Linked DNA regions of Homo sapiens: regions 1 and 3 are each linked to region 2. The links come from fine-mapping of genetic effects on gene expression. A gene starts in region 2. Each other region holds a variant in brackets. All regions are shown on one strand. Distances are from middle to middle.

Evidence for each region. PIP is the estimated chance that this variant, and not a neighbour inherited with it, causes the effect.
Region 1: its variant is the best candidate, but not a certain one, in a credible set for the expression of ZNF667-AS1 in subcutaneous fat (GTEx, PIP 0.51).
Region 3: its variant is the best candidate, but not a certain one, in a credible set for the expression of ZNF667-AS1 in whole blood (TOPMed, PIP 0.56).

The regions. Positions count from the first base shown.
Region 1 is chr19:56,441,623-56,444,391 of GRCh38, forward strand. ZNF667 (zinc finger protein 667) reads right to left here. Exons shown (of 7, transcript NM_001321356.2): 7 at 1-1,119. Among named protein-coding and RNA genes, the nearest start is that of ZNF667, 34 kb to the right of the region's middle. The variant C/A (reference allele first, on the strand shown) is at 1,112.
Region 2 is chr19:56,476,487-56,479,255 of GRCh38, forward strand. ZNF667-AS1 (ZNF667 antisense RNA 1) reads left to right here and starts at 1,388. Exons shown (of 2, transcript NR_036521.1): 1 at 1,388-1,895. It overlaps ZNF667 (zinc finger protein 667), which reads right to left and starts at 859. Exons shown (of 7, transcript NM_001321356.2): 1 at 786-859.
Region 3 is chr19:56,581,760-56,584,528 of GRCh38, forward strand. ZNF470 (zinc finger protein 470) reads left to right here. Exons shown (of 6, transcript NM_001001668.4): 6 at 1-1,135. Among named protein-coding and RNA genes, the nearest start is that of ZNF71, 12 kb to the right of the region's middle. The variant T/TC (reference allele first, on the strand shown) is at 1,297.

The DNA.
Region 1 (2,769 bases), 35 kb before region 2:
GAAATGATTGGCGGCCGAAAACTTTACTACATTTATTGCATTTGAAAGGTTTCTCTTCAGAATGAATATTCTGATGTATTTTAAGGTTTGCAGTTCCAGAAAACATCTTCCCACATTCCTTACACTCAAATAGTTTCTTTTTCTTTGTATGAACTTTCTGATGTTGAATAAGGGATGAATGCCGATTGCAGACCTTCTCACATTTATTGCATCTGTATAGTTTTTCTCCATTATGAATTCTTAGATGCAGAATAAGGGTTGAAAGCCGCCTGAAGAACTTGTCACATTTATCACATTTGTACGGTTTCTCTGAAGTGTGAATTCTCTGGTGAAGCATCAGGGGTGAAATCCTATTAAATAATTTCCCACATTTTCTGCATTTAAAAGGATTCTCTAAATGGTGACTTCTTTGCTGTAGACTCTGACTTAAGGCCTTCGCATTTTCAGGGATTTTCTCTCCAGCATGAATTCTTTTATGTACAACAAAGACTGATTTCTTTTTGAAGCCTCTCCCACATTTATTATATTTATGTGTTTTCTTTCCATTGTGAATTTTCTTATGAAGTAAAAGGGATGACATCTGATTGAAGGCTTTTCCGCACTTTCTGCACTGGCAGACATTCCCAACAACATGAATTTTCTGATGTATATTGAAAGACTGACATTGACTCAAGGCCTTCCCACAGTCAAGAATTTCCTTTCCATCATGAATTCTCATATGTAGAATAAGGGTTGTTCTTTGATTGAAGCTTTCCCCACATTTATTGCATTCATGGCTTTTCTTTCCACTGTGAATTCTCTGATGAAGTAGGATGGATGAGATCTGTCTGAAAGCTTTTCTACAATTACTGCATTCAAAAGGCTTCTCTCCTGTATGAATGTTCTGATGAAGTTTAAGAGAGAAGCTTCGACTAAAGGTTTTACCACAGTCATTACATTTTAAAGGTTTCTTCCCTGAATGCCCTTTCTTAGGTTTTACTAGGACTGAATTTTTGTTGCAGCCACTCTTTCGTGTAGGAGCTTTTTGTTGTGCAGAAACTAGTTTCTGGCAGATGCTTTGCCCAGATTTGTTGCATTGATTTGGAGGTAACTTCTTGGTCTCACATTTAGA[C/A]CCCGAGTCTGAAAGACATAAAGGAATTAAATGTTTCTCCTTTTCCATGCTGAAAAAATGAAGATTCTACAATATAAATGTAATTATCATTATTAATCACAACAACAATTATGATTACCAAAACATAACTTTTTAGTGTTTTATTGTGGTTTTGATGACTATACTAAAGGCTTTACAGAGATATTTAATAACCAGAGTTCAGAAGAGTGTAATTTGAAAATGAATAAGATTTTATTTATACGATAACTTTTATGCCATATACGGCACATTGAACTCCACAGGTTGTTCAATGGATAAATGTATGTTTATTAGAGAATGTGTCCAGAAAAGGTAAGTCTACAGAGACAGAAGATAAGTGGTTGCCTGGGGCTCAAGGTAGGAATGGGGATTAACTGAAAATGGACATGAAGAATCTTACAGGGGTGATAAAAATGTTCTAATACTGGATCATATTGATGGTTACACACTCTGTAAATTTATCCAAAATCATTTAATTATATTCTAGATATAGTGACTTTTATGATGTTTACCTCAATAAAGTTGTAGATTTTAAAAAATGTATTCTTAAGATCAAATTTAAAAAGAACTAGTAAAAATTAGAATTGAGTACAGTCACGGGTTGCTTAACAATGGGAACATGTTGTAAGACATGCATTGTCAGGCAATTTCATCATTGTGCAAACATCTTACAGTAGATTTACATAAACCTAGATAGTATAGCCTACTATACACCTATGTTATATTGTATAGCCTGTTCCTAGGCTACAAACCTGTACATGACGTTACTGTATTGAATCCTGTAGGCAATTTTAACACTATGATAAGTATTTATGTATCTAAATATACATAAATGTAGAAAAGGTACAGTACAAATAACAGTTTTATGATCTTATAGAACCATGGCCATATATGTAGTCTGTTGTTGACTGGACTGAAACATCATTATGCAGCATATGACTGTATTTAGATATTTACAAAGGTGAAGTCTTTAGCAAGAAGCAGGAAAAGCTCAGAAAAATAGGTAAGAGATTAGACTAAAAGAAGGAATCTATTTTGTAGTAAAATAGATCAATATGGCTGGCATAGGGTGCCAAAGTCCAAGGTGATATAAAATAACTACTTGTATGGCAAACTGACTATAAACCTGAGTGAATGTGGCATGATAAACACAGGCTTTAGAACTATGCTATCCAATATAGTAGCCATTAGTCACCTGTAGCTACTGAGGAATTGAAATGTGGCTGGTTTGAGGTATACTATGAGTATAAAACATATGCCAGACTGTGAAAATTTACTACAAAAAAGTATAAAGTATCTCATTGTAAAAATGCTGGTTATATGATATAATATGTTGGATATATTAGGTTAAATACATATATTACTAAAATTAATTTTACCTGTTTGTATTAGGAAGTTCCTATATTGCTATAAATAAATACTTGAGTGGGTAATTTATAAACAAAAGAGGTTCAATTGGCTCCTGGTTCAGTAGGCTGTACAAGCATGGTGCTGGCACCTCCTTGGCTTCTGGGGAGGCCTCAGTGAGCTCTTACTCATGGTGAAAGACGAAGTAGGAGAAGGCACATCACATGGTGAAACAAGGAGAGAGAGTGTGGAGGAGGTGCCACATATTACAACGATCAGATTTTGTAAGAATC
Region 2 (2,769 bases):
ATAACCAACACCTAAACACGGTGATTAGTATGTGACAAGCTCTGTGCAGGGTGTTTCAGCTACGTCATCCCATTTAATCTTCCCAATAACACCCAGGCAGGTGCTATTAATATGCTATTTTACCAAGGAGGAAAGTCATGCACAATTAAACAGTTCCACAGATTTCCAGGGCAGCCCATCACATCTTAGAGCTGCTAAGAATTCTTCCCCTGTGGGCCTCCATTTCCATGGTTACAGTGAGATATACACCAGAAAGGCACAGTCACACACTCATAACCGCAAAGCCACTGACGCTAAGTGGCAGACAGACGCCCAGGCAAGTCACACAGTAACCCAAGGCTACAATAAACGCCCACATCAGCCTGACACTGACACACGCACACACTCCAGAAACACAAATCTTCACAGTCAGCGTCACACACCCACTCCCGGCTTCCCAATGGCTCCATTGTTTCCTTCGCGTGGGTCACGCAGCGATACACATCCGCGGTCCCGACATAGCTCCCTCACACACAGGCACACACGGCTCGCCTCACACGCGGCGCCAACTTCACACTTGGGCGCACAAGCCCCGAGAACCACAGCAGCGAAGGGCGCAAACCCCACGCCGTGGCGGGCCGAGAACCCACGCAGGCGCGAGCCCACCGCCCACGCAAGCACCCGCGCAGACGCCCACGCCATCGTGGATGCGCAAACCCACGCGCGCCTTGGCAGGAACGTCCACGCAGTGGCGGGCGCGCCGCCCACGCCCTCAGACACACCCACACTCTCGCCAGCCCCCTTACCTCGGTCTTCCCGGGCTCAGACCCCGGCGGCGACCACCGAGACAGCCGAGCAGGGACTCAGCGCCTGCGCACTCCCCTCCGGGACCCCGGGACCGCGCGCTGCACCCCCCTTCACACACGCACCACGCATGCGGGCGCGTGGCCCCGCCCCCAAACAAGGCCACGCGGCGTGCGCTCACCCGCCTCTCGGGGACAGTACCACCAGCCCCGGCCTGAGGCCCCGACCCCTCAGCGCCACACGCACAAGCGCGTTCGCACGATTGGTGCAGGCGGACGCGCGAGGTCCCGCGCCTGCGCACACCCCCGAGGCTGGCACGCACACCGGTCTCCTAGGGGACTGGCGCCTGGCCCTGCTTTTCATCCTCTCAGGAGATCACGTGTGGACACTGAGGCCCTTCCTCGAGCTCTTTAACCAAACCCAACCTCCCCAATTCGCCGCCTTCCCCGCTCCCACAACCACACGTTCCCGTGTGAGGGCTTATTGCCTCCAGCCAGCCAGCGTCCTTCGCCCCCACATTCACGAGGTTTGGAGCCGGCCTCACCCGCGGAGGCGGACACCGCCCACCCGCGCGTGCGCACTACGCAGTCATCCTGCGACCTCCAGAATCCACCGGGGTGCAGCGAGGCTGTGGAAAGTCCCACCCAGAACGTGAGGTGAAGAAGGCTTGGGCTGCGCTGGTTCTGCTCTGTCCGGGTCGGAGATGAACTGACCCGGGAGAGCAGCGGAGGGATGTTTCTTTTGGCCAACAGTGGGGACTCACCTGCACGTTTTGCGAAGAGGCCCACAGTCCTTTGCGTGGCGCTCGGACTACATTTCCCAACGGCCCCTGCACGCCCTGGGGGCTGTTCCATGCGGTGTTGCGCCTGCGTAGCCGGCGGGCTGGCAGTGAGACTGACTGCGTCGGGGTTGAGACTGGGTGGATGAGGCTCACCCCGGCGGGGAGAAGGGACGAGGAGGGGCGGACAGCGGAAGGTCCGGGAGTGTCCGCCATAAAGTCGTTTGAGGTGACCGTTGCGTAATTGTGAGTCTGTGAGAGAAGATGTGAAGTATGGCCTCGTCCCGGTCATCTGGGCGTGCGGGTCCCGGGTTTTGATCGCGCGTTTGTGTAGGTGAGACCCACATTGTGTTACCCTGAACATGTGTGAGGACGAACCTTTGTGTTTTCTTATACGTGTGTCTCTGAGGCGATTTTTGTGGTTTTGTACGTGGCGGGGGGCACTGATTTTGAATATGTGTGTATGTTCTGGACATTTGTTTAGCTTCTGCATCCACTTCTGCGGAAGGGCAGAGTTGAGTAGGTGGGAACAGGTACTGTGTGGCCCCACAAAGCCTGAACTATTTACTGTTGACTCTAGAGCCCAGTTTTTGCGGTGTGTACGTCTCTGTGGGGAACCACACATTTTGAATATGTATACTTGTGTATATTTACGTCTATTCTATGACTGCTTTTGCACAATGGCAGGGTTCAGTACTTGCAGCAGAGATCTTGTGGCCCATAAAGCCTAAAATACTATCCGACTAAGGTTTCGAGCCGTAGCCAGTTTTTGTGGATGAGTGTTGTGTGTGTGTGGGAAGCCAGTGATTGATTGATTGATTGATTGATTTGGGACGGAGTCTCGCTCTGTCGCCCAGGCTGGAGTGCAGTGGCGCGATCTCGGCTCACTGCAACCTCCGCCTCCAGGTTCAAGCCATTCTTCTGCCTCATCCTCCCTAGTAGCTGGGACTACAGGCGCCCGCCACCACGCCCGGCTAAGTTTTTTGTATTTTTAGTAGATTCGGGGTTTCACCATGTGGGCTCTTGACCTCGTGATCCGCCCGCCTCGGCCTCCCAAAGTGCTGGGATTACAGGCGTGAGCCACCGCGACCGGCCAAGGAAAGCCAGTGTTTTTGACTCTGTGTGTGTGTACCCGCCTGTGTGTTGAGACCCAGTTTTTGTAGTTGCATAGGTGGGTATATGTGTGAGGGGAACCCAGGGCCTGTGAT
Region 3 (2,769 bases), 110 kb after region 2:
TTTTCCTTTTGAGTAACTGGCCATACCCTACCATATGTTTTTGATGGACGTGGCCAATAAAATTGTCTCTGAATTTCAAAAGGCATTTGGATCTGTGTCATCCAATGGCAACTCCCTAAAAGCTGATGCAGTTATTCTTTTGATTGGTCCTTGGAACCACCCTGGTTTTTGTACTTTCCAAGTCTGTGATTCCTCAAACTACCCATTGTCTTTCCGGTACTTGATTTTTGCCTCCTGTTGGTCAGTTGCTTGCAAGTAAAGAAACAATCATACAGAATTTGGTACGAAGATTGGGTAATGGGCATTAGAATCTTTGGAAAAATCAGGTATTGGGAGTTGCTTTTTGGATGAGATGGGGCGAATAAGACTTATATTCTAGACTGGAAAGCATCTCATGGTGTGCGATGAGCAAACGCCTGATTATTCATTATAGTCACCTGGGATGAATAGAGGTCTAGGGTTCTGGATAATGATAATTTAAGGAGGATGGAGAATGCTGAATCCAAAAGGTATATGTAATACTGGTATCTAACTGCTTGGAATAACTTAAAGTTTAGCTCTTGAATTTCTAGCATTAAGGCAAAAAAAATTCACCTAAGGGATTTTGTATGATATTGTTGAAAGATGTCTTACATTGTTTAAAGTCATAGGGTTAAGATGGCTCATAACCAAATTTAGAGACTATTTTTATGCATTGTTAAAGTGGAATGCTGGTTAAATTTTATACTTTATTCACAAGAGTCACTGTGAATTGAATTGTGAATTCAGTTCTGAATTGTGTTCCCACCAGCACCACCAAATGCTGGCCTCTACCACCACCAAATTTACTTGTTGAAGTCCTAAACCCCAACATGACTGTATTTGGACATAAGGCCTTTAAGAAACTAAGGTTAAGTTAGGCCATAAGAGTGAGGCCCTAATCCCATAGGACTAGTGTCCTTATAAGAGGAAGAGACACCAGAGGTTTGTCTCTCCACATGTGCACAGAGGAAATGCTGTGTAAGGACACAACAAGAATGCTGCCATCTGCAAGCCAGGAGGAGAGACCTCACCAGGAACCAGCCCTGCCAGCACCTTGATCTTGGACTTTTAATCTCCAGGACTGTGAGAAAATAAATGTTGGTTGTTTAAGCCACCCAGTCTGTGGTATATTGTTACGGCAGCCTGAACTGATTAATGCAATTACCATATAATTTATTGTTCAAACTGGGACATTTTTGAGAGTGAAAGGAGTAGCTAACTGCACAGGGCACTTGACAACAGGTGTTCATATCCTCAGCAAAGCAGGATATATGG[T/TC]CATACTTCTTGTGTAACAGAATATTGAACAGAAAAAAATATAGCTCTACTATTGGAAAGGTGATATTGGAGATGAGCCAAAGGATTGGAATATACTGAACTTCCGGATTCGTGTGATATACCACCTATTAACATCTGTTTGCATAGGTACATATGGCTGTTCTGAAGAGACAGCTAACAGTTCATCTTATTCCCCCATTCCATTGTTGCTCACATGGAATAACAAAGTGAATTTAACATGACCATAACATTAAATGCAAAAATCAGGCTGAGCACAGTGGCTCATGCCTGTAATCCTAGCACTTTGGGAGGCCCAGGCAGGAGGATCATTTGAGACCAGCCTGGGCAATGTAGCATGACCCTATCCCATATCTAAAAAAAAATTAAATTTTCCAGTCATGGTGGCACCTAGCTACTCGGGAGGCTGAGGTGGGAGGATTGCTTGAGCCCAGGAGTTCGAGGCTGCAGTGAGCCATGATCACACCATTGCAATCCAGCTTGGGTGACAAAGCCAGACCCTGTTTGAAAAATAGATAAATAAAATCATACATATGTACAAAATTAAAATAGGGCAAAGAGTAACTGTATCTTAGAAGAATTTTCGGCAGTTAGTTTACTAGTGTAGATTAAGAAAAATCTAGGGCATTTGTGGAAGTGAAATTTGAGGAGGCTGAATATATTGACAAAGTAGCTTGAGTAGCCTGCCATGGTTCTAAGAATTTGTTGAACTCATCCATGTACCAAATGCTGGCCGCTAATAAATTACATTATAAGGCCAGAAATCTCTTAACATAATGTAAAGGATGTTGTTCAGACTTCAAAAGGCAGGATTGCTGGATTGGTTCTTGTGTTGCAACATCAGGTCTCCTGACAAGAGTCCAGAAACCTATACATTCATTCTTCCCGTGAGAAAAACACCATTTGTCTAATGGATTTTAAAACCATTACACCGACTCTCTGGCAGATCAAGAATGCTATGTAGAGAGGTTGTAACTGAAGGAGCATCTCTGATCAAAAGACTAATTGAAATGGGAATGACACCAAACTGCCCCACCAGGTGAGCCTCCTCTGGGACTAATGTGACTTCAGAGAGAGCCTTTAACTCAGCATGGCCTGAGAGTCCTTGGGCAGATTGGGGCCTTGGGGAGGTTTTTTGGGGCTCCTGGTGGCAGAAGCAAAGAACAATTTAAAAATAAGGTTTAAAAAATTCTACCTACAATAGCATCAAAAGGAATTAAATACTTAGGAATCAACAAAAGTACAAAAGTTAGATTCTGAAAACTATAAAATATTGTTGAAAGAAAATCCCATATTTATGCATTGGAAGGCTTAATATTATTAAGATGGCAATGCTTCCCAACATTATCTACATGTTCAATGCAATCTAATTTCCTTTTTGTGGGAATTGATAAGCTGATCCTAAAATTCATATGGAAGCACAAGGGACTCAGAATAGCCAAAACAATATTTAAA